Linked DNA regions of Homo sapiens. The protein of the gene in region 1 purifies or fractionates together with the protein of each later gene. This does not show direct contact. Each region holds a gene or a part of one and is shown on either strand. Other genes may lie near its edges.

What was found.
Region 2: the proteins of PCIF1 (region 1) and CAMSAP2 purify together in Homo sapiens (affinity purification with mass spectrometry; one large-scale study listed by BioGRID and IntAct). This does not show direct contact.
Region 3: the proteins of PCIF1 (region 1) and TUT7 purify together in Homo sapiens (affinity purification with mass spectrometry; one large-scale study listed by BioGRID and IntAct). This does not show direct contact.
Region 4: the proteins of PCIF1 (region 1) and PARP16 purify together in Homo sapiens (affinity purification with mass spectrometry; one large-scale study listed by BioGRID and IntAct). This does not show direct contact.

The regions. Positions count from the first base shown.
Region 1 is NC_000020.11:45,932,475-45,939,095, reverse strand, and holds the start of PCIF1 (mRNA (2'-O-methyladenosine-N(6)-)-methyltransferase), read right to left. Parts: upstream 4,414-6,621; 5' UTR 4,292-4,413; exon of another isoform or gene 4,025-4,291; intron 3,898-4,024; exon of another isoform or gene 3,731-3,897; intron 1,679-3,730; 5' UTR 1,511-1,678; exon of another isoform or gene 1,398-1,510; intron 116-1,397; 5' UTR 97-115; coding exon 1-96. UniProt on the Homo sapiens protein: Cap-specific adenosine methyltransferase that catalyzes formation of N(6),2'-O-dimethyladenosine cap (m6A(m)) by methylating the adenosine at the second transcribed position of capped mRNAs.
Region 2 is NC_000001.11:200,849,324-200,855,217, reverse strand, and holds part of CAMSAP2 (calmodulin-regulated spectrin-associated protein 2), read right to left. Parts: coding exon 4,984-5,894; intron 2,678-4,983; coding exon 2,541-2,677; intron 1,944-2,540; coding exon 1,723-1,943; intron 402-1,722; coding exon 329-401; intron 1-328. UniProt on the Homo sapiens protein: Key microtubule-organizing protein that specifically binds the minus-end of non-centrosomal microtubules and regulates their dynamics and organization.
Region 3 is NC_000009.12:86,290,513-86,296,406, reverse strand, and holds part of TUT7 (terminal uridylyltransferase 7), read left to right. Parts: exon of another isoform or gene 1-1,109; intron 1,110-5,894. UniProt on the Homo sapiens protein: Uridylyltransferase that mediates the terminal uridylation of mRNAs with short (less than 25 nucleotides) poly(A) tails, hence facilitating global mRNA decay. Essential for both oocyte maturation and fertility.
Region 4 is NC_000015.10:65,263,990-65,269,883, forward strand, and holds part of PARP16 (protein mono-ADP-ribosyltransferase PARP16), read right to left. Parts: intron 2,780-5,894; coding exon 2,573-2,779; intron 1-2,572. UniProt on the Homo sapiens protein: Intracellular mono-ADP-ribosyltransferase that plays a role in different processes, such as protein translation and unfolded protein response (UPR), through the mono-ADP-ribosylation of proteins involved in those processes.

The DNA.
Region 1 (6,621 bases):
CTTTGGAGAACAGGGCTGGCTCTGATTGGAGGTACCTGGGGAGTGACTCAGCAGGGACGCTTCCTCCCGGGGGCTGCCGTGATTCTCATTGGCCATCTCCACACCCACACAGGACCTGCCACACAGAGGACCAAAGAGTGTCAGCTCCACCCCCTCACCCGCCAATTACAATCCACCCAGGGCCCCAGTGACCACCCACCGATGTGGAGAAATCCAATCAGGTCCTATCCTGGAGGGCCAGCATGGTGCCACACAGCAGCCCTGGGATCTAAGCTGCAATTCCAGCTGTTCAATGGGTGCACTCCTGCTGCTTCCTCTGCCTGAAATGCCCCTCCCCCTCTTCTCTGCCTGGCTTGCTACTGGGTTCACATCCTCCAGGAAGCCTTCCTTGACTCTCCCCTCCCCAGGCCAGGTGGTCAGAGCTCCTCCTCAGGGCCGTGAACACCTCTGTCGTAGCACTCAGATGGTCTCATCTATCAGCTGGGTTTGTCTCCCCACTAAACTGTCAGAACTTCCAGAAATAGGAACTGCGTCCAATTCAGCTCTCTCCTGTGCTCAGGCCTAGGACCTGGACCCAACAGGAGCACTACTGATTCTGCAAATATTTACAAAGCACCAAGAGCAGCAAAAAAGACAGAACAGGGTCTGCCCTTGAGAAGCGATTCCTACAAGAAGGAATAGTAACAACTCCCAGAAGGAGATGGGATTTTACTGCTCTCATCCAGTAAAATCTAAAAGGAACAAAGCACACTAGGGAAGGGCATGGAATCTAATTGGTCACCTTATTTTACACTACATGGCAGGAAGCAGCTATTGCTAAAATAACCAATGCAACCAAGAAGGACTATCTAATTGACTCCTTCATAATCCCCAGGTGAATATTTACTGTAAGTACCAGCAAGGAGGCCAGTTCCTTCAGATCTGTATTCCCTACTCCCCCACCCAAAGCACACCCAGCAACAGCCTCAGGAGCCAAAGTGCTTCTGGCCTGGGGCTGTCAGACAACTGGGAGCTAACTGAGATAGAACTGGTGATGCTAAAGTTGTTTTCAGTAGGTCACACCACCCAAAAGAAATCAAACTTTTGCCCACAACAAGACCACAAAGGCAGGCTTAAACATCAGTTATCTTTTCATGCTGAAATTTTATCAACTCATTGTGGTCACACTGATTATCTCATGCTGATCAGAAGCTCTGATTGGTTGTTGATGACATCATACGAATCATTGGGACACTGATTTTATTGTACACTCCATCATAGACGTCTTCCTTAATTTAGGAAGGGAAAAGTCAATGGTTACTCCATCAGTACAGTTTGGCAGATAAAAATGCAGGGGGCAACAGGACATATGTACAACAAAAAGTGCCTTGATAACAAAAAGGTTGAGAACCACTGACCAAGGTACGAAAAAAATGAAGCTGCCTTGATTCTCTGGGCAGGAAGAATTCCTGATGCCTTGGGGGCTGAGCACACAGGTTTCAAGACTGAATGAAGTCCCCCTTTCTCTCACCCTCTGGGGTCTGCAACGTTAGCATGAGAGGCTTTTCTTCTCCAGCCGGATGGACCCCCACAGGGTCCCACAGAGGCAAGGAAAGGCCTGCAGGAAGACTCAGCACAGGCGAATGGGCTGGTCAGCAGTGGAGTGGACGGGAGCCCAGGGGATTCCTTGCATCAGCAGCTGGAAAGCAAATAGGAAAACAGTCACAGACCTGTGGGATGCTGCAGGGCAGGGACAAGAGGGACAAAAACAAAGAGCAAGTTGGGGGCCTCCAGGGCAGGACACACCGGGAGAGGGGATGAGGGAATACAGGGGATGAAAATGATACCTCTTAAGCTTTCTCACCAATAGGTTTGCTTTCATGGGCATGTGACCTGCACGGCTGCACAGGGATCCACATTCAGGAAAGCCCTGAGCTTGGTGTAAGGCTCTGCCGTCACTGTCTTAAAATTTTTAATAACTTTTTAACAAGGAGCTCACATTTACATTTTGCACACTGGGCCCCACAAACTCTGTAGCCAGTCCTGCCAACTGAAGTACCCTTAGGCTGGGCACGTGGCTTTGGCAACTTGGGAGCTGGGCTAGGAGTTCAAAACCAGCCTCGGCAACATAGTGAGCCCCCAGCTCTACAACAAATAAAGCTTTTTGTTTGGTTGGTTTTGGTTTCCTTTGAGACGGAGTGAGACTCCATCACCCAGGCTGGAGTGCATTGCACGATCTCGACTCACTGCAACCTCCAACTCCTGGGTTCAAGCGATTCTCCTGTGTCAGCCTCTCAGTAGCTGGGATTACAGGCATGAGTCACAGCTGGCTAATTTTCTGTACTTTTAGTAGAGACGGGATTTCACCATGTTGGCCAGGCTGGTCTCGAACTTCTGACCTCAAGAGATCCACCCACCTGGGCCTCCTAAAGTGCTGGGATTACAGGTGTGAGCCACTGCGCCGGGCCCAAATAAAAAAAAATTGCACCTGCAGTCCCAGCTACTCAGGAGGCTGAGGTGGAAGGGTCACTTGAGCCCAGGAGTTCGAGGCTGCAGTGAAGTATGATCATGCCACTGTGCTCCAGCCTGGGTGACAGGGCAAGACCTCATCTCTTAAAAAATAAAAGAGGCCGGGCGCGGTGGCTCACGCCTGTAATCCCAGCACTTTGGGAGGCCCAGATGGGCGGATCACGAGGTCAGGAGATCGGGACCATCCTAGCTAACACAGTGAAACCCCGTCTCTACTAAAAATACAAAAAAAAAAAAAAAAAAAAATTAGCCCGGCGTGGTGGCGGGAGCCTGTAGTCCCAGCTACTCGGGAGGCTGAGGCAGAAGAATGGCATGAACCCAGGGGGCGGAGGTTGCAGTGAGCTGAGATCGCGCCACTGCACTCCAGCCCAGGCGACAGAGCAAGACTCCGTCTCAAAATAAATAAATAAAAATAAAAAATAAAATAAAGTACCCTTAGACCAGAGAAAAATCAACAAACATACCTATCACTGATCTGTGGGGGCACAATCCCAAGCCTCCCACAGCAAGTCAAAGACACGCTCTGAATAATGTCTTGCAAAAACAAAAACATGCAAACACATTATGTGACACATCTTGTTCGCCTTTATTGAAAAATATTTTCCCCAAGAAACATCCTGTGATATTGATGCACCGGGTAGATGAACTTTGCAGAATACGCACAAGCGGCACAGCTTAGTGTGAGGCTAAATGGGGACACTGCAGTATTTCCAAAGCCAGCTGTGCATCAGAATCATCTTGGAGTTTGTAAAAAAAAAAAAAAAATCAGACTCCTGTGCCTCACTGCGCATCTCAGAAGCCAGAAATAAATACGGAGGTGAGGCACACAAGAATTTGTATTTTTAAAACGCACCGTAAGAGTGACTGGGAGACAGGATGACTCATTTTTTCACACTATTTGAAAAAATGTACCCATTTTTTGCAATTAAAACCATTTTTAATTTCCTATGTGACTTGAGCGCAGCAGGTCTGTGGCCGAAGTACCAGCCCCTGGGTTGGACAGACCCGGATTCCGGGCCCTTCTGCTTTCCGGCTTATAAACCGGAATCACTCGACCGTTATATGTAGAGTCCAGCATTGTACGCTCCCAGTAAGACATAACTGCTCTTAAGTTAACGTCTTTATTTATCCTGTGGCTTCCCGACCCCCACGCATACCGCAGTTTGAGAATTACCGCTGCTCAAGGATAAACAACTCTATCTGCGCAACCAGAAAAACCCACCAGAAGCCAGAGTCCGAGTCCGGGATTGGAGGCACGTGGGGCGGGACCATCTCCGCAATGTACCAATCAGAATTCTCCGGCCCAGTAGGGAGGAGTCAAAGGGCGAACAAAGTACGCAGGCGCGACGGCGCACGAAGGCGAGAGGCGAGCTCCAGCGCGCGCGCGCGCGCGCACCTTCCCCTCCCCCTACCCCAGCGAGGGTGGGCTGTTTGGCGCGCGCGCGCGCGCCGGCCCATCTCTCGGGCTCCGCCCCCCGCCCCGCCGCGCGCTCCCGCCCCCGGGCTGAGGCGACTCAGAGTCGGAGCCCGACACAAAGGCGGTGGCGGCGGCAGCAGCGGAGGGGCCCTAGAGCCCGCTCCGCTGGGGCTCTCCGGGCCCACCTCCCTCACTTCGGCCACCGGCGCGGCCGCCCACCCGCGGGTCTAAGATGGCGGCGGCAACAGAGACAGGGCAAGCGGCAGTCCCGAGCAGAAAGCGCCGGAGGGGCCGCCGCCCCCCAGCTTCGGATCCCCAGACCCTGGCGCGGCTCGCTGCGGGACCATGGCTTCCTGGGACTCTTACCTGCCCGGAGCGGACTGGAGGGGACGCGGCTACACGTTCTGCTCGACCGCCCGTTTTGCCGCCTCCGCCTCGCCCTCCCCAGCGCCGCTGCCGCCATCTTGTGTCCCGGGCCGGGACTCCGCGCTGCGCATGCGCTGGTACCGCCTCTGAGGGACCTCGCCGCGGCCGCGCCGCCATCTTGAGTGTGGCAGGGTCGGCTGGCTCCTCGCACCCAGCTTGCTTTCGGCCCCCTCCCCTTCTTCCCATCCGTCCCTGCTGTTCCTTGTGGCGCTGAGGAAGGGGAGACAGCTTTGTAGGCCTGCGGGTGGACTGAGGAAGGAATGAATTCACTGGCACGTCCCCGCCTCAGTTTCCCCCTCGAGCACACACGCAGGAGCCGGATGTTCGCGGTGGGCGGTGCGCGGCGGGGTTGGACTGAGCGTGCGCACTGGGGGGCGTGGGGGCTGTCTTAGAACCTGCGGGGGTCTCGGGTTCTGCCGCCGGCCCAGGGGAGGCATCGTGGTGACGTAGGCTCCGGACGTAGCAAGGACCTGGGTCCTGGCACCCGCGCGGCTCTGCCTCTTCCAGCCAGTCTCTTTCCCTCTCTGGGCCTTTGTGCTGCGTGGTGTCCAAATGTTAAGAAGCCCTGCCCCATGCCCGGGCTACATATACATCGAACCCAAGCTGTAAATGCTCTTGAGTAGAAGCAACTTAAACTAGCCTTCGGGGGCAAGTAATAGAGATGGCTTTCGGCAGAGTTGGGAAATCAACTAAATGCATTGTAGGGCCTTTCCAACATTGACATCTGTGGCCATTAGTTGCAGTTCAAAGCCTCACTGAGCCCTCAAACCAGCTACAGCGGGTAGCCTGGCAGGGAACTGGCAGCTGTGAGGTGCTCCTCATCCGGCTCCCTGCAGGATTCTTTTTGGTAGGAGCCTGCAGGCGTCCGAGTGGTAGCTCCACCCATCTCCGGTCTCCCCAGCAAGCATCCCTTCCAGTGCTAGCTTGAGAAGAGGAAAAGCTTGCCACCTGCTGTCAGACCGGCGCTTGTGTGGAGCCAGGGGCTGTAGGTACCCCGGCTGAGTAGCCTCTCAGATGTCCATGGTCCTGGCTGCACGCCAGCGTGGGGGCAGGCAGGCGGACGCTCAAGAAAAACGGAGGCACCGATATGAGTAGTAATTGAGAACGAGGGTTCATGATCCTCATCTGATTTCAATCCCTGCTCCTCCACCCAAAATGTGTGGCCTTGAAGGAGTTAACCAATTTAAATTTTAGTTTCCTCAGTGGAAGATAATAAATCCGCCTACCTCATAAAGGTTTGGTGAGAATTAACTCAGGTGATGCATGTGAAGTCCTCAGCGCAATACCTGGCGCTTCCTAAGTGCTGAATCGGTTAGCCGTGATCATCTCACAGTGGCATGAGCATTGCTCCAAGTAGATTTGAGCCCTCCAGAAATAAGCCAGCTCTATATAGGCACAGCAGTTCTGCCCTCGCAGAGCTTCTCGTTCAGATAAGAGGCCTGATGGGAAACCAGACTCCTGGGTCCTGTCTCAGTTCTGGAAGGGTGGGGGGCCAGCTTTGATTTATGCCTGCTGCCCTGGCATAATTACTAATATTGCCTCCTTTTTCAGAAGTGCCCTGCTTTGGGCCGGGCGTGGTGGCTCACCCCGGTAATCCCAGCACTTTGGGAGGCCGACGCAGGTGGACCACCTGAGGTCAGGAATTCAAGACCAGCCTGGCCAACACGGCGAAACCCCGTCTCTACTAAAATTACAAACATGAGCCAGGCCTGGTGGCGCGCGCCTGTAATCCCAGCTACTCGGGAGGCTGAGGCAGGAGAATCACATGATCCCGGGAGGCAGAGGTTGCAGTGAGTCGAGATCGCGCCACTGCACTCCAGCCTGGGCGACAGAGTGAGACTCCTGTCTCAAAAAAAAGTACTGCTTTGGGCAGTAAACTACGTGGTCGCTCTTGACCTACGGGATAACCAGTTTTCCATGCTCATGCCCCCCAGCTAGCCCGCGCTTTCACTAAAGTTTAAAAACCATGTAGTGATTATTACCCTTTTTTTTTTTTGAGACGAAATCTCGCACTGTCGCCCGGGCTGGATTGCAGTGGCGCGATCTCGGCTCACTACAACCTCTGCCTCCCGGGTTCAAGCAATTCTCCTGCCTCAGCCTCCCAAGTAGCTGGGATTATAGGCACCCGCCACCACTCCCACCTAATTTTATTTGTATTTTTAGTAGAGACGGTGTTTCACGATGTTGGCCAGGCTGGTCTCAAACTCCTGACCTCATGATCCGCCCGCCTCGGCCCCCCAAAGTGCTGGGATTACAGGCGTGAGCCACCG
Region 2 (5,894 bases), on another chromosome or scaffold:
CATTCTACTGACTGTGATTTAATAATCATGTTAGCAATTACTGATGTATAATTACTGTTAATGTTTCATAGCTTATAAAAAGTATGTTATCAATGTCAATAATTCTAAATTCTAAAAGACAAGCACTGAAAGATGAATAGACACCTCTTTACATAATTTATTTTAACAGAAACTCTAACAGTCCTAAGTCAGCAAAACTTAGTAAAATTTGTGATTATGATTTGGTCATTATAAAATGTAAAAACACTGAAGAATTTTTACTTAGAGTTTGTATAATTGCAGGTACTATATTCTTTTCTGTAAAAATATTCATACGTTATAGATTTACCTTGGCGTCCTCTTGCCTGAATGTACACTCTCGTTATCACCCGTGTTCAGCGATGCCAAAGAAAGGCTAGAGACTGAAAAAACACGATAAATTCATGATCCTGAATAAAAACAAAATCAGAAATTTAAAAGGAGCAACTAGCAAAGAGTCTGTTCATTAGATAACACCAGCATATAAAAATTGAGCTTCTGTAGTTTCTTTTCCTTTTCTCTGTACTTTTAAACACATAATATGCTTGCATGCATATATACACAATTTATTTAAAATTAGCAAGGAACCTACTTTTAGGAAACAATGATAAAACTAACTTGCGTTCCAAAAGGAAAGTGTTAATATGAGACGTGATACTGTGATCCTAAAGAAAAAAACAATAACAAAAAAAAATTTCATAATATCTAAATTCTAGGTAGAAAATTATATCAATTAGTTTTACAGGCTTGAAAACAGAGTTCTCTTTAAACAGTCAATATTATGTTATTTTTCCTCAGGTTTAGTATAACTATGAGAATTCTCTAAAAAATTTCCATGGCATTTGGTTTTAATAAAGATTTCTTTTATTTTTACGAATTTATCCCTGCCCCCCAAGATTTTTTTAAAAATAAGAGTATGGCCAGGCGCAGTGACTCACACCTGTAATCCTAACACTTTGGGAGGCCAAGGCAGGCAGATTACTTGAGCCCAAGAGTTCGAGACCAGCCTGAACAACATGAAGAAACCCCATCTGTACAAAAAATACAAAAAAGTTAGCTGGGTATGGTGGCACTCACCTGTAGTCCCAACTACCCAGGAGGCTGAGGTGGGAGGATCACCTGAACCCAGGGAGGTGGAGGCTGCAGTGAGCCATGATCACACCACTGCACTCTAGCCTGGGCAACAGACTGAGACCCCGTTTCAAAAAATAATAATAGTAATAATGAGTATGTATACTGACTTTTAAAGAAAATATATTCTCTCAACTCCAGATATTATAAGTTTGGATTTTCAACCATTTCTATCTTGAAGGAGGGACTTGTGAACTCTTGATCTTGCATTCCTTATTATACCAACATGTTTCTTGTACATTTCATGCATATAACATTTATTTAAATTTATAAGTATGTAAAGGGCAGTTAATAGTTCAAGGAGATTATATCTGAGGGCACAGTTCCCTAATAGATTAATATTTAGATTTGATTTTTAGCATTCACATTTGTTCTACTGAATATATGCATGCACACATAATACATTTAATTTATTAAAAACTTCATTTGCTCATTTTGGTTTTCCAAAAGGGAGCATGCACAATCTCAAACTGTGTATCCAATTTTGCACATCAAAGTACAACCAAGTTAGTATGACAAACCAATCAAGCTGGTGTTTTTTATGAACAGACTCTTCATAATAAGCTATGTTACCTGGAGGACCCTTTATTGGTGTTTTGGGGGATTCAATATGATCTCTGTGAATAGATTTTGGTCGCTGTTTTTTTTGTTTTACTACTTGAGGACGGGGTTTAATTACTGTATCCATATCTTCCATTAGTTTCAGTTGTTTCCGCCTCATATATTCTTGCCTAATAAATTCTCTGCGTGCTCTCTCATCTTCTTTCTTCTGACGTTCTTCCTCAGTTTTACGCCTAAGAAATCAAATGGTTACAGTTCTTATTCTGCATACCAAAGACAAACCATACAGGAGAGAGTTATGTATTTGATATGAGAAAGGAGAATTCTATTTCATCACCTTGGTGAATAAATGGTTCATTTAAAAGGTACTTGACGATTCTGCTGAGACATGGGATTAAGCATAAATAAGTAAATAAAGGAGGGAAGGAAGAGTCAAATAAATAAATAAAAATAAAGGTATTTGAGATAATTTAGGTCGTGTGTGTGTGTGTGTGTGTGTGTGTGTGTATCTCCCAGGAAAGTTATTTTAATGTTTTTTAAACATATAATTATTTAAATTAATGTTTCTAGAGAACTTTCCCATGAGATGCCTTAAACTTAAGATAAAAATATAAAATTAGGCAATACTTTGGGAAAATAAATTGATTTCTACAAAGCACCAAAAAATAGCATTGATCCAGCTGTCTATCTATACTACAAACTTCTCTGAAAGAAATCTGTTAATAAAAATTAATGAGAGACCACCTCTTTGAGTACTTACCAACTTTTTCTAAATATGCCCATGCATCATTAAAGTTCAGATCTAGCACTGGGCCAGCAATTTCCTTTACCTTGTTTCCTCCTTCTTATGCTCCATTTCTGCTTCCAACTGTTGTTTCCGGAGCTGAGTTTCCTTTTCCCTTCTTAATCTTTTCTCCAACAAAGCTGCCCGTTTCATTGCCATATCATTTTCTGCTTTTTGATCATCCTAAGAACGAATTTCATTGAAAACGATCAAACATTTTAGGTACCAATATTCTCATTTTCAATTGTTGTAGTCACATTTTGTGGTTAGTCCTATAACTGAAAGTTTGAACTATTACAACCCTTCTGAATGTGGGTGTGGTTGAGAAATTATGAAGGAAGAACGGAACTACAGTGGTAACAGTTCCATCAAAAAAGAGGACAGGCAAACTTATTTAATTACACTCTGTCAAAACCTATGAGATTTGCAAAGAACAACCATAAAAACAAAACAAAAAAGCACAAATTTTTTTTAACCCTAATTTAATAACTTACAGTAGGTAGTTCCCCCACCAATTTTTAAAATTGCATTTAAATTTTATTTAAAATATAAGCTCAGTAAAAATACCTCAAGTAAAAACATCCCAAAATTAGCCACCCAATGTTGTAGCACATAAATGAAACTATTGCTGCATGATTTTAAGTTGAGGTACTGACAGTCTGCTTGATAGGTTCTGAACTATAATGAACATTTTTCCATTGAAGAAAAGATGGGGATGATTATACTTCCCTTCTACAGTACTTTTAATTTGAGAGCTAGTTCATTATCTATAGGCCTCCTGGGCCTGCCCTAGTTTCTACCTGAATCCTTAGGGACAGCCCTAGTTCTCAGCGGGCTTCCAAAATGCTTCAGAATTCAGCAAAGTAACAAGCTGTTGTAGAAGTGGTTCACTGTCTTAATGTCTCCTTGTCAACTGTCCCTGCCAATGCTTAATTCAATAAACATTTCTTTGGTGTCTAACATACTCACAACATAGTGTCAGATATTACATATATTAAAATATATGGTACCTCAGGTCAAGGAGCCTAAAAAATCACAAGGAGAAGAGGTACAAACAACAGGCTTTGTATGGAAACCCAGAGAGAGATTTAACTCTGAATGGAGAAAGTCAGAAGATACCATTCAAGCAATTAGTTCAAACATTCATATGTCTTCATCTATCAAATTACATATATTGTAGTTTGCCAGACACTTTATTATGCTATGGGGATAAAAAGATGCAGTACCTTGGCTGGGCACGGGGGCTCATGCCTGTAATCCCAGCACTTTGGGAGGCTGAGGCGGGTAGATCACCTGAGGTTGGGAGTTCGAGACCAGCCTGACCAACGTGGAGAAACCCCATCTCTACTAAAAATACAAAATTTATTTTGTGGTGCATGCCTGTAATACCAGCTACTAGGGAGGCTGTGGCAGGAGAATCGCCTGAACCCAGGAGGCGGAGGTTGTGGTAAGCCGAGATTGCGCCATTGTACTCCAGCCTGGGCAACAAGAGCGAAGCTCTGTCTCAAAAAATAAATAAATAAATAAATAAAAATAAAAAGATGCAGCACCTCTAGGAGGTCATGGTCTAAGAGACAAAGCAAATCATACAAAACAGTTGAAAACTCCGGGACACAGGACAGGTATGAGTATATTTAAGGATACAATAGATACACAAATGATGAAACATTTGACCTCGACTGAAGGAATTATAAAAGGCTTTAGATGAAGCTTGAAGTTAATCTTAAAGAACAATACAAAATAAAATTATGGGGAAGAAGCTAGACAAAAAGATTTAGGTTCATCTGTGAAAGTCCCTGAATGTTGTGCTAAAGGGTTTGAACTTTATTCAACAGGCAAGATTTTTGACTAGAAAGAGACTCAATTGGAGCTATGCTCTTGGAACTATCACCTTTAGTAGCAGTATGAAGACTGGAATGGCATGATTGGAGACAGACAGCCCAGTCAAGAAGCTGTAACCATAGTCCAACAGATGAGTAATGGGGTGGTGAAGATGTGTAAATAAATGGAATAGAAATGAAGCAACAGAGGTACTGCCTGTTTTATACTAATGATTTTCTTCCCCTTTGTTTCCCTTCCTCTGCAAGGAACAGAGTCTCTAGGCAGTAAATTTTAATATCTATTAGTGTCTACAGTAGCATTCTGTTAAAAAAAATGGCAGTGTTACATGATTAAGAGACAAAATGGAATCATTCTCTGAAGAGATCTGAGTAGCTTAATTTTTAAAAGGCTTTTGTGAGTGAGAAAGAGCAGTAGAGGAGCAAAACCAAGGAATACATCTAAACATGTGATAAAAGGATTTATTACAGCTTTGAGTCCATACTGGAAACCACAGTGTGCTTGAATGTTACTATAGTTAATGGGGATGAACTTGTATCAAAAGGGACTGCTACTGAAAGAAGCAAGCATGTCAACTGAAAAAAAAAATATCCAACACAACCACACTCATCTAATGAAGATGCCCAAAACTATGCAGATTAATACTACACCTTAAAAAAGAATCCACAGCATACTTTCTGGTCATCATCAAATTGTTCTTTATCACTTTCTCCATCATATTTTTCAACAGGTACATCAGCCTTTTCAGGGGGTTTCAAATCTGAGAGGGAAACTTCAATCAGATTAACATTTTTTGGAGCAGTGGGTGGGAAAACGGGTTTAGGAGGGGGTTCTGTGGGTTGATTCAATTGGTCCTCATTTGGTGTCAGACATACAGTCTCTGTGACAGGCAGTGATAGGACTTCAGAGACTGTTGACTCAAAAGGTTTGATTTCCTTTTCTTCTGGATTATGTCCACGCTGTTCCAAAGTCCCTTTGGATTCCAATTCCTCCTTTTTAACTTCCTCTTTAGGTTTGGATTCCTTTAACTGAGGTTCTCCATCATCCCCAAAACATACAAATGACCTAGTTTGAATAGGAACTTGACTTGGTGAAAACCTCCTTAACCGAGGAAGGCTATCCACAGACCGAGGAGGTGTCAAGGTTCGATTCAAAGGTGTTATTTTTAACTCATTTGGCCTAGGAGTCCTTTGACTTTTAACAGAAAAAGATGCACTTTTCCTGTTAGAAGACTGTGGAGATGGGTGAGTAGGACGAGGGGAGTCTGAGGAGAATGGTGCAATGGCTGATGACAGGCCTGCCTGCTTAGAAGGCTTAAAATCTCGAATCTGTTTCTGTGGAGAGGGTTGTGGAGGTGAAATCACCCAAGATTGTTGCTCTCTCATCTGCATTAACATCTCCTGCTGAAGTGACAAGCGTTGCATTTCTTGTTGTAGAAAATGCAGGGATGAATTTAACTTTTCAATGGATTTGGTATATTCTAAAATCTCTCCTTCATTTAAAGTTTCTTCTGAGGGGCTTGCCAGGTTCCACTGCTTCTCAGGATCAATAGGTGTAGTTG
Region 3 (5,894 bases), on another chromosome or scaffold:
GGTTTTATTGATTAGAGGTGAACTTATTTGGAAGGAATAAAAAGACAAAGCAGGAGAATGGTCAAGAACATGAGTTTTAGAGTGAGACACTTGAGTTTGAAATCCAGCCCAACCATTTACTAGTTGTGTGACCTCTATCAAGTTATGCAACCTCTCTGTGCCTCAGTTTCCTTTTTGGCAAATTGGTGCTAACACCTCACAGGACTATTGTAAGGATTAAGTTCATGTAGATAAAGCACTTAACACAGCATCCGACACATCTCATCACTCAATAAATTATCACTGCCCTTTGTTACTGTGGTTAACAAACACTTGCTGTAATTTCTCTCTTCTAACTTATAGGACAAACAAATAATGGAAATTTTTAACATAAGTATGTAGAGATTGTGGTACCACAGTGATAAACTGATTTTTATGCTTAAGTTAATGACTCTGGTTTATGTATGACAATTTATTCAGTATGAGAATCTCAGAAAACTAATGTTTTTTTCTATTCCTTAACCTTCCTACCCTTTTTTTGGTAAAGAAAATTACCGAAAAAACAAAAAACAAAAAAAAAACTACCTCTGTCTATTTATTTATTCCATTTTAATCTCATGGCTTGAAATCTGAAAAATTGGAGTTGCTGTAAGAGATTGGTGGATGTCTTTTTGCCCTCATGGTGATGTATTCTTTTACAGCTTTTATCATTGACCAGAATTTTAAGGCCTGCTTATTTTAAAAAACGAAAACCAGTGTTCTTTATGATAATAAGCTTAAAATAATAGAAATACTTTTTAAAATAGTATGGGGAGAGCTCATTGTCAGTGAATATAGATCATTCTTGTTGATACCCTTCTTTGAATATTCTAGTGTATTAATATACCATTGTTTATTTAATCATGTCTTATTAATGGACTGGCTGTTTTCACATATTTGATATATCAAGTGTCTTCACAACTTGTGCTTGCATATTCTTTCCCAAAATATTGAAAGTCCATATATTTCCTTGTACATTTTTAAAGTTGATATCTAAATCTTTCATTGTAGTTGCAAAGCATGTAATTTCTTGGGGGAGGGGGGCTGTAAATATTGACATTTTAAAATAAAACTTTTAAATCAGCCTTAAATGTATCAAATGAAGTATAAATATTATTGCTTTTTCATACCCACCATCATTTATATACAGCTCAGCTCTTCTTTAACAGGCAAAAATTATATATCATTTCCCTTTCCTCCTTGAATTCCTTTGTTGTACTTCTACAGAATTTCAGCATAAGATGATATATTTTGTTTGTTTGTTTGAACTTCTCCCTGAGATGATATATTTTTATTACACATATTTTCAAATATTTTATTGAGTAGCTTATCATGCTTATCTGCAACAAAAATGACAGGGGCAACAAGCTAGGCCCTATTTTCTATAAATTGAATTTTTAAGCTTTTTATTAAATCTCAAAGGATGAAAATATCTTCTATATTGAGTTTTCACAATTATTAGAATATATAATTGATCAAAACAAATGTTACAAATTTTAATTAAAAATTACTTTTTTTTTTTATACCTAATGCTAAATGACGAGTTAATGGGTGCAGCACACCAACATGGCACATGTATACATATGTAACAAACCTGCATGTTGTGCACATGTACCCTAAAACTTAAAATATAATAATAATAAACAAATATTAAAATAATAATAATAATTACTTTTTATGTTTACTTACAACGACTTTAATAAGAAAGATGAGATTTTTTCCCTATACATTCACATATCTTTGGGTCGACATTATTTACTGCGTGAATGAAACTGTTCCTTTTCTATCCCTAATTTTTTTTTATAGTTGATAAAAATGGAAAAACCCCAATATTCTTTATGATAGCAAATTAAAAATAATAGAAATACTTTGAGTTTGGGAATAGAAGATATATTACAATAGTGCCACTCAATTATTTTGATTCCTTCTTAATTACATGACAAAAAATCACAGTGATGTATCATCAAAAATTATTTGTAATGATCATCCACTATCAATGTAATTTTATGAAAGCTAAAAATTTGGATTTTTATTAGAGGCATTTACATTCACCACAGACACCAGCATTTTGTTTGCCTCTCCTCTTCTCTGGGTTTTTTTTTTTTTTTTTTTTTGCCTCATGGCAATACACCACAGTAGGATTTGGCTGGTTAGGAGATACGCCTTTCTTTTGTAAAGTAGATAAATAATTGTGAAAGGGGAATTAGAAAGGACAGGTGGAGTGATTCCTGAAAACCAGCCTAAGCCTTGACCACAAAGGCATTCACAGACATATAATTTTTAAGAAAGAGTACACATGGAAGTTGAAGAGCTAGAAATTGACTCTCTTAAAACTATCCTTGCGGCCGGGCGCCATGGCTCACGCCTATAATCCTAGTACTTTGAGACACCGAGGCGGGTGGATCACCTGAGGTTGGGAGTTCCGAGACCAGCCTGGCCAACATGGTGAAACCCCATCTCTACTAAAAAGACAGATTTAGTCAGGTGTACTGGTGTGCGCCTATAATCCCAGCTGCTCAGGAGGCTGAGGGCAGGAGAATCACTTGAACCTGGGAGGTGGAGGCTGCAGTGAGCCGAGATCAAGCCACATGCCCTGTCAGGTAGGCTCAGGAACACATGGGCCCAGGTTGGAAGAGCACCATTTATATAAAACACTCTAATGAATAGTCGCATATTTGTCTAGTTATTTCATCAGGATAAATTCCCGCTCATAAGAATGATAGGTTTAAAAGTATGCACATTTTGACAGTGATGCCAATATTCCCAAATTGTGATTGTTGACAATCCCGGAGAGTCAGTGACATTGTTTCCCATACCCTGACTTCATTGGGATAGTCTTTTTTCATTTTACACCTGCTTGAATTCCTATTATTACCATTGAACTTTACCATTTTTTTTTACATGATTTCATCTATCTTTCTTTGTACTTTTGTATTGGAGTATTCTTGACAGGGTCTCACTGTCGCCCAGGCTGGAGTGCAGTGGCTCAATTATAGCTCACTACAGCCTTGAACTCTCAAGCGATCCTCCCATCTCAGTCTCCCGAGTAGCTGGGACCATAAGCTAGTGAGACCACACTCAGCTGATTTTTAAAATTTTTTTGTAGAGACAGGGTCTCGCCATGTTGCCCAGGCTCGTCTTGAACTCTTGGGCTCAGATGATCCTCCTCAGTTTCCAGAAGTGTTGGGATTACAGGCATGAGCCACTCCACCCGGCCCAGTTTATTATTTTAACCTCACTTATATGTGTTTGCCATACAGATGAATGTTTGTTTTAATAGTGTGATCTAGCCAACTTTTGCATGGTTTCTTATCATGCTTACCAAATTTTATAAATGCCATATTATTCCTCTATATTATATAAAAATTCATTCATGTGTTATTTCTAGTACTTTTGTTTTTTTACATGCAAATATTTTATATTCAGGTATAGTGAAGATTTTTCTGATATAGTAGATTACATGTTTAAATGCTACAGTAGTAAAACTACTAGTACTATACTTACCAAAGGGTTTAACATTTTGGGAAAAACAGAAACGGGCAAGTAGCAGTATAACAATAACTAACTTACCTTCTAGAGAATTGGCATTGTTTTTCAATTTTTTTTTTCTTTTAGAGAGAAGGGTTTCACTCTGTCACCCAGGTAGGAGTGCAGTGGCACAATCATAGCTCACTGCAACCTCGAACTCCTGGGCTCAAGAAATCCTCCCACCTCAGCCTCCCAAGTAGCTCACAGGCATGAGCCACCTGTGCCTGGCTCAATCTCTTTTTTTTTTTTTTTTAATAAAAGACCTGTCACTGAGGTAGTGGAAGTGCCTTGAGTACCATCACCAACATCGTTTCCTCTGTCATGTCCCTCTCAACCCTAGAAACATCCATTATTATGAGGTTAAGTCTCCAAGTTTCCTTTTTTTTTTTTTTGAGACAAAGTCTCCCTCTGTCACCCAGGCTGGAGTGTAGTGGTGTGATCTCTGCTCACTGCAGCCTTCACCTCCTAGGTTCCAGTGATTCTTCTGCCTCAGCCTCCCAAGTAGCTGGGATTACAGGTGTGAGCCACTGCACCCAGCCCCTTCTGGTTCATTTTTTATACTCTTTCATATGTACTCCTTAACATATGTTTCTCCTTGGTGAATTTTTAAATTAAAATGGCATATCATGGCATATAATAAGAATGTCCTACAAACCAGGGATGGTGGCACGGGCATGCAGTCTCAGCCACTCAGGAGGCTGAGGCAGGAGGATGGCTTGAGCCCGGGAGATCTGACACTGTAGTATGCAATGATAGTGCCTGTGAATAGTCACTGCACTGCACTCCAGACTGGGCAACAAGCTAGACCTCATCTATTTTAAAACTTTTATATGGTGCTGTTTTTATATTTGGGTTTTTTTCTTTACAGTATTCCACCCTGTGAATAAAAAATATTCTATGTATTTATTACCCAGTTTTAGGTTGTATTCAATATTCTGCTGTTATTAACAGTGCTATAGTGAACATCCTTGTGGAAGTCCCCTTGAGCATGTATGAGAGATTCTTTAGGGTTTGTGTGTCTACAAGTCAAATCGTTAGGTCATAGCTTATGTGCATTTTAGTTAGATTCTATCAGATTACGCTTGTATTGGCTGAAATAATTAGAACTCCCACCAGCAGTGTGTGGGTCATTTCTATGTATTCTTCCAAATACTTTATTTATTAATTTTTCAGAATTTTCATTTTTGCAAGTCTGATGGATGAAAACTACTTTGGTGTTGTTCTCATGTGTATTTGTATGACTCTGGTGATGCAAGGGGCCCTTTTACTTTTTTTTTTTTTTTTTTTTGAGATGGAGTTTCGCTCTTGTTGCCCAGGCTGGAGTGCAATGGCACAATCTCGGCTCACCACAACGTCTGCCTCCTGGATTCAAGCGATTCTCCTGCCTCCTGTCTCTCGAATGGCTGGGATTACAAGCACATACCATGACACCCGGCTAATTTTTGTATTTTTAGTAGAGACAGGGTTTCACCATGTTGGCCAGGCTGGCCTTGAACTCCTGACCTCAAGTGATCCACCTACCTCAGCATCCCAAAATGCTGGGATTACAGGCCCTTTTTACATGTTTATTGGCCATTTGGAGTTCCTCTTCTGTGAATTGTCTGTCCAAATCATTTGCCCATTTTCCCATTGAATTATTTCCCTATTAATTTTTAAAGGTTCTTCATTTATTCTGAATACCGCTCTTTTATTATTATATAAATTTCAAGTGTCTACCTGCAGTATATCTTCTGTTTCAACTTTTTGTGTGTATTGCCATTCCAAAGTTTTTAATTTTGAGATAATCAAATTATTAGTTTTCCATAATTAGTTTTCATCATCATTTGGTTCATAATTTAGGGTCATCTTTAAGAAATTCTTCTCTAACCTGAGGTCATAAAGATATCCATCTGTATTTTCTTCTAACAGCTTTAAAACTTTGTTTTTTCTATTTAGACCTTTAATCCATCCAGAGTTTGTATGTGTATGAAGTATGAGGTAGTCTCTTTTTTTTTCTTTTTTGAGATGGAGTCTTGCTCTGTCGCCCAGGCTGGAGTGCAATGGCATGATCTTGGCTTACTGCAACCTCCACTCCTGGGTTCGAGCAATTCTCCTGCCTCAGCCTTCCGAGTAGCTGGGACTACTAGTGTGCCACTGCCATAACCCAGCTAATTTTTTTTTTTTTTTTTTTTTTTGTATTTTAGTAGAGACGAGGTTTCACCATGTTGCCCAGGCTGGTCTCGAACTCCTGAGCTCAGGCAGTCTGCCCGCCTTGGCCTCCCAAAGTGCTAGGATTACAGGCATGAGCCACCGCCTGGCTGAAAAGCCAAATCTCCATACTTTGTGCAGTTCACAATATCGAAGATGGG
Region 4 (5,894 bases), on another chromosome or scaffold:
AAAAACATAAAAATTAAAAATAATAAATAAATTAGAAATTAGTCTCTTAGACCAGAAACTATAACAAAATGAGGGAGGCCGACATGCGGGGCAAGGTACGTTTTACTCTTTGTATTGGGGTTGACCAAGAAAACATCTAAAAATCTAGGCAGCATCTCCCTGGTGGTGCCCTCCATAAGGAAGCATGCCAGGTGAAGGACCTGTAAGTTGAGGCTACAGCAGGCATAGTGAACACATCTTTGCCCATGGTAGATGACCAATAACAAACCACAATTGCCAGCACAGTAATATCAAGCATGGCACTTATTCCTAATGATCCAGAATCCTCAACTTAACATTCCAGGTAGCTGCGACCAATGGATGGACATTGACGCTCAGGTTGAAATTCAACTGCTATCCCTGAGCCACACTATCAGTATCTCAAGATAAGTGGACTTGAATAGCTCACTGAAGAATATCTTATGCTCTGGAATTGAGAAATGTCCTTTTCAGTAGCACCAGGCTTCCAAAATCCTAAATCTGTTAAGTGAAGCTTAGGGGAAATGAAACAGACCTTTGCTTGGCCTTTGGGAAGCTCTTTGCCAAGTTAGGCAGGGTCTCCATCTCTCAAAAGCTGACACAGACCTTCTCCAATGACACTGGATGCCCTCTGATCTGACCCCACATCCATTCTCTGCTTATGCCATCATGTGTTCACCCTTCCTTAGACTTGAGAACCCCATGCAAGGCTGCCATGAGCAGTGGTGTACAAGAGTGGGAAGCTCAGTGTATCTCTGCCATGAAAACAGTATCAGTATCAACTGGCAGATGGACTCCCTCAAGCAAGCCCTTCACTGAAAACCCAGGCAGAGGGGCCATAGGAGGATTGATGTGCTTTACCAAAGGATTTTTGTAAGATGCCTCTAAGCAGCAAACTCCCTGGGGCACTAAAATGAAGGTTTAGTGTACAAGAGTATAATCTGCAGGCAACTTCTCCAGGCCAGCACCAGTGTAAAGGGGAAGCCCCCTGAATTCCAGTAGCCTGGACATAATGGTAAGCTGAGAGCCAGTGGTGGACTGAGAGCCAGTGTAAACAAGCCCGTCATCCTTAGCAAAACCCAACGACATTAACCAGATACACCAGGGAAATATCTCCAGTCTCAGGGCTGCAGCAGCCACAACTGAGCCCATGGCTCATGGAGCCAGCTCCTCACAGACAAGGCAGATACTGCCATGACTGGGGGAAAGGCCTGCAGCTCCTCCAACTACCCTAGATGCCCCTCCATCAGCATATAAAAGCAGCTACCTCTTCCTTGGTACTTAGTACACAAAGAGCCCTTTGCATACATGAACTGTTTTAATTCTCTGACATATAAGAAGGAGGGTAATGGTGTCCTTTTTTACAGATGAAGAACCTGAGGCTCAGAGAGTTTAATTTACTCAGGGCCATAGAGCTGCTAAGTAAGTCTCTGTAGCTCCAGGGTCTGTCTGTAATGCTCCTCCTATACCTGAGGGGTAAAATAAATGCCTGCAGAGAAGTGGATAGATGACTGTTTTGACTCATAAAAATGGGACAAAAGCAGCTCAAGAGGGGAGGGAAAGGACCTCTCCTCGGTGCATCTTGGCATATCCCTCAGTTTCTCCAAGGGCTGATTTCCTGGAGTGTGGTCCCCAAGGAAAGTGCTTCTCAAACTTCAATATGCATACAGATCACCTGGGGACCTTGTTAAAGTGTGGATTCCGATCAGGTGGTCTGCGCCTGAGATTCGCATTTCCAGCGAGCTACCAGGTGATGCAGACGCTGCTGGTCCAGGGAACGCACAGTGGAGCTAGGGTTGGCTACATAGTGGGATCACCTGGAGAGCTTTTAAAGCAACTGATGCCTGTGCTCCACTCGGAGATTCTCATTTAATTGGTCTGGGATGCAGCCAGGCATCTGGGATTTTTTATTATTTATTTATTTTATTTTTTAATTTTTGAGATGGAGTCTCACTCTGTCACCTAGGCTGGAGTGCAATGGCACGATCTCAGCTCACTGCCACCTCTGCCTCCCAGGTTCAAGCAATTCTCCTGCCTCAGCCTCCCGAGTAGCTGGGATTACAGGCACCCACCACCATGCCCGGCTAATTTTTGTATTTTTAGTATGGATGGGGTTTCACCACGTTGGCCAGGCTGGTCTGGAACTCCCTCAGCCTCCCAAAGTCCTGGGATTACAGGCGTGAGCCACTGCGCCAGGCCTGGCATCTGGGATTTTTAAAAGCTCCCCGAGTGATTCTAAATATGCAGCCAAGGTCGGGAACTATCTTTAAATCGACGCTTTTCAAACTATAACCAGTGCAGGAATCACCTAGAGATCTTGTTAAAATGCAGGTTCTGATTCAGAAGGTCTAGAGTGTGCCCAAGATTTTGCATTTTCTTAGGTCTCCAGGTGATGCTGCCACTGCTGGTGTGCAGACCACATTTTGAGTGAGAAGGCGTTAGTAAACCTACCCGACCCCACCTGCAAACTCCTAGGGTTCTGAATCTCCCCCTCCCCACTCTCCCACCTCCATCCCTGCTTCCCCACATCAGCAGGGTGTCCCTTAGGCCCCACCTTGTTCAGATGGCAGTGCAGGCCATTGTGGATAATGGAATGGAAGTTTTCTAGGCGGCTACCATGAAATGCATAGATTAGGTCTCGTTCTCCTTTGGTCTCATAAAATTTGGCGTTGGCTGGGTCAAAGTACTCAATTTCAAACAGGAAGTCCGGTGCAGGAACAGGCGTGTGAGGAGCCCCAGTCAGCTTTTGGATCTTTTCAAACTTGAAAACATGAAGAGCATCAAAATTTTATTTGGGGAGCTGGTAAATGTGCTGCAAAAATAGCCCCCTAAACTCTCAGGCTTAACTCCCATGGACTCTGCTCATGAGAACAACAGGTTTCATGAGGATAGAGACATAAGCAAACTCAGAGCGTATAGCACAAGACTGCTTTCTTTAATAACATTTTTCCCGGTCGGGTGTGGTGGCTCACACCTGTAATCCCAAAACTTTGGGAGGCCGAGGCAGGTGGATCATTTGAGGTCAGGAGTTCGAGACCAGCCTGACCAACATGGTGAAACCCCATCTCTACTAAAAATACAAAATTAGCCGGGTGTGGCAGTGCACACCTTTAGTCCCAGCTACTTAGGAGGCTGAGGCAGAAGAATCACTTGAACCTGGGAGGTGGAGGTTGCAGTGAGCAGAGATCACGTCACTGTACTCCAGACTGGGCAACAAGAGTGAAACTCCATTTAAAAAAATAATAATAATAAATAATAACATTTTTCCCTACAGTAGGCTGAGAAGCATGAATTGCTCCTTCTAAGTGGAGATCACAGGGCTGGGTGCGGTGGCTCACACCTGTAATCCCAGCACTTTGGGCGGCCGAGGCAGGCGGATCATGAGGTCAGGAGATCAAGACCATCCCAGCTAACACGGTGAAACCCCGTCTCTACTAAAAATACAAAAAATTAGCCGGGCGTGGTGGTGGGCGCCTGTAGTCCCAGCTACTCGGGAGGCTGAGGCAGGAGAATGGTGTGAACCCAGGAGGCAGAGCTTGCAGTGAGCCGAGATGGCGCCACTGCACTCCAGCCTGGGCGACAGAGCGAGACTCCGTCTCAAAAAATAAATAAATTAATTAATTAAATAATAATTAAAAAAATAAGTGGAGATCACTTCTAATTTTCCTAACTTTTTTTTTTTTTTTTTTTTTTTTTTTTGAGACAGTCTCGCTCTGTCGCCCAGGCTGGAGTGCAGTGACGCCATCTCAGCTCACTGCAACCTCTGCCCCTCCAGGTTTTTTAAGCAATTCTCTGCCTCAGCCTCCGGAGTAGCTGGGATTACAAGTGCGTGCCACCACCCCTGGCTAATTTTTTTTGTATTTTTAGTAGAGATGGGGTTTCACCATCTTGGCCAGGCTGGTCTTGAACTCCTGACCTCGTGATCCACCCGCCTCAGCCGCCCAAAGTGCTGGGATTACAGGCGTGAGCCACCACGCCCGGCCACTTCCTAACACTTTTACATCTATCTCCTGCATTCCATTTTTACAATCATCTCATGTTTATTGTAAAAATTCCCTCTCATCCTTGTCCATGCACCCCTCTGCAATGTGGTTTTGCAGGTGGGATTCTACCAAGATCCCATCAAAAGATGGAACCTACTTCTCCACCCTTAAGACTGTGCTTGGCCATGTGACCTGCTTTGGCCAACGGGACATTAACATATATATAGCAAACAGAGACTTGAGAAGGGCTTGTCTTTCCTTCTTTGCTGCTGAGAACCCCTCACCATTGTCCTGGCTTGTCTGCTATAGAGTATGAGCCTCACAGAGGAAGGCTTCCAGCATGGTGGCCATCCCAGCTGAAGCCCCAGAAATGTAAGTGAGGCCACCCTAGCTCATCCAGCCAAGCCCAGAACCACCCAACCAACCCACAAAATCATGAGAAGCAATTAGCATTTGTTGCTGTTGTTGTTTTTGAGACAGGATCTGGCTCTGTCGCCCAGGCTGGAGTGCAGTGGTGTGATCCTAGCTCATCGCAGCCTTGAACTCCTGGGTTCGAGCAATCCTCTATCCTCAGTTTCTTGAGTAGCTGGGACTATAGGTGCAACTACTATGTGCACCTAATTCTTAAATTTTTCATAGACAGAGGGTCTTGCTATGTTGCCCAGGCTGGTCTTGAACTCCAGCCTCAAGCAATCCTCCCACCTTGGCCTCCCAAAGTACTAGGATTACAGGCGCAAGCCACTGCCCCCTAGTCCATTTCAGTGGTTTTTTCTTTTTTTTTTGAGATGGAGTCTTAGTCTGTCTCTCAGCCTAGAGTGCAGTGGCACGATCTTGGCTCACTGCAGCCTCCACCTCCCAGGTTCAAGCGATTCTCCTACCTCAGCCTCCCGAGCAGCTGGGATTACAGGCATGTGCCACAATGCCTGGCTAATTTTTGTATTTTTATTAGAGACGAAGCTTCATCATTTTGGCCAGGCTGGTCTTGAACTCCTGGCCTCAAGTGATCCGCCTGCCTTGGCCTCCCAAAGTGCTGGAATTACAGGCGTGAGCTTGTAGAGTTTAGTATTATTTGGAATGGGGACTGTAGACCTGTGAATTTCCTCTCTATAGTGGTTACACCTATAGTCCCAGTTACCCAAGACAAGCCAGGACAATGGGTCACACCTGGCCCATTTTAGTCGGTTTTTTTCTTTCTTTCTTTCTTTCTTTCTTTCTTTTTTTTTTGAGATACAGTCTTGCACTGTTGCCCCGGCTGGAGTGCAGTGGCGGCATCTTGGCTCACTGCAACTTCCGCCTCCCGGCTTCAAGCGATTCTCCTGCCTCAGCCTCCCACGTAGCTGGGATTACAGGCTCCCGCCACCATGCCCAGCTAAGTTTTTGTATTTTTAGTAGAGACGGGGTTCCACTATGTTGGCCAGGCTGGTCTCAAACTCCTGACCTCATGATCCGCCCACCTTAGCCTTCCAAAGTGCTGGGATTACAGGCATGAGCTACCGCACCCAGCCAGTGGTTTTCAAATAGTAGGTCACAGACCAAAGCCAGTCTATGGCAAAGTTTTCTCTGGATTATGACTGAATGAGCAAAATAAGGGCTATATAACAGATATATTGATGTAAGGTTGCCATGTACCTTTCTTTGGAAGAACTGTTCTTCATTCTGAAGTCAAGGCCATCCTCCTTTCTTAGTACTATAATATCCTTTTATAAAATGATGATACATGGTAGGCTAACATACTTACTTGGGCAATACAAAAAGTTGACAATCCTGGGTCCCAATACCCCACAGTTTAAAAGAAATTTAACTGGTCCACAATCAAAAGTCTAGGAGCTATTTATTGCCTTATCTACTTTAGCACCCAACATCTAGTAGGTGCTTGATGCCCATATGAGGTAA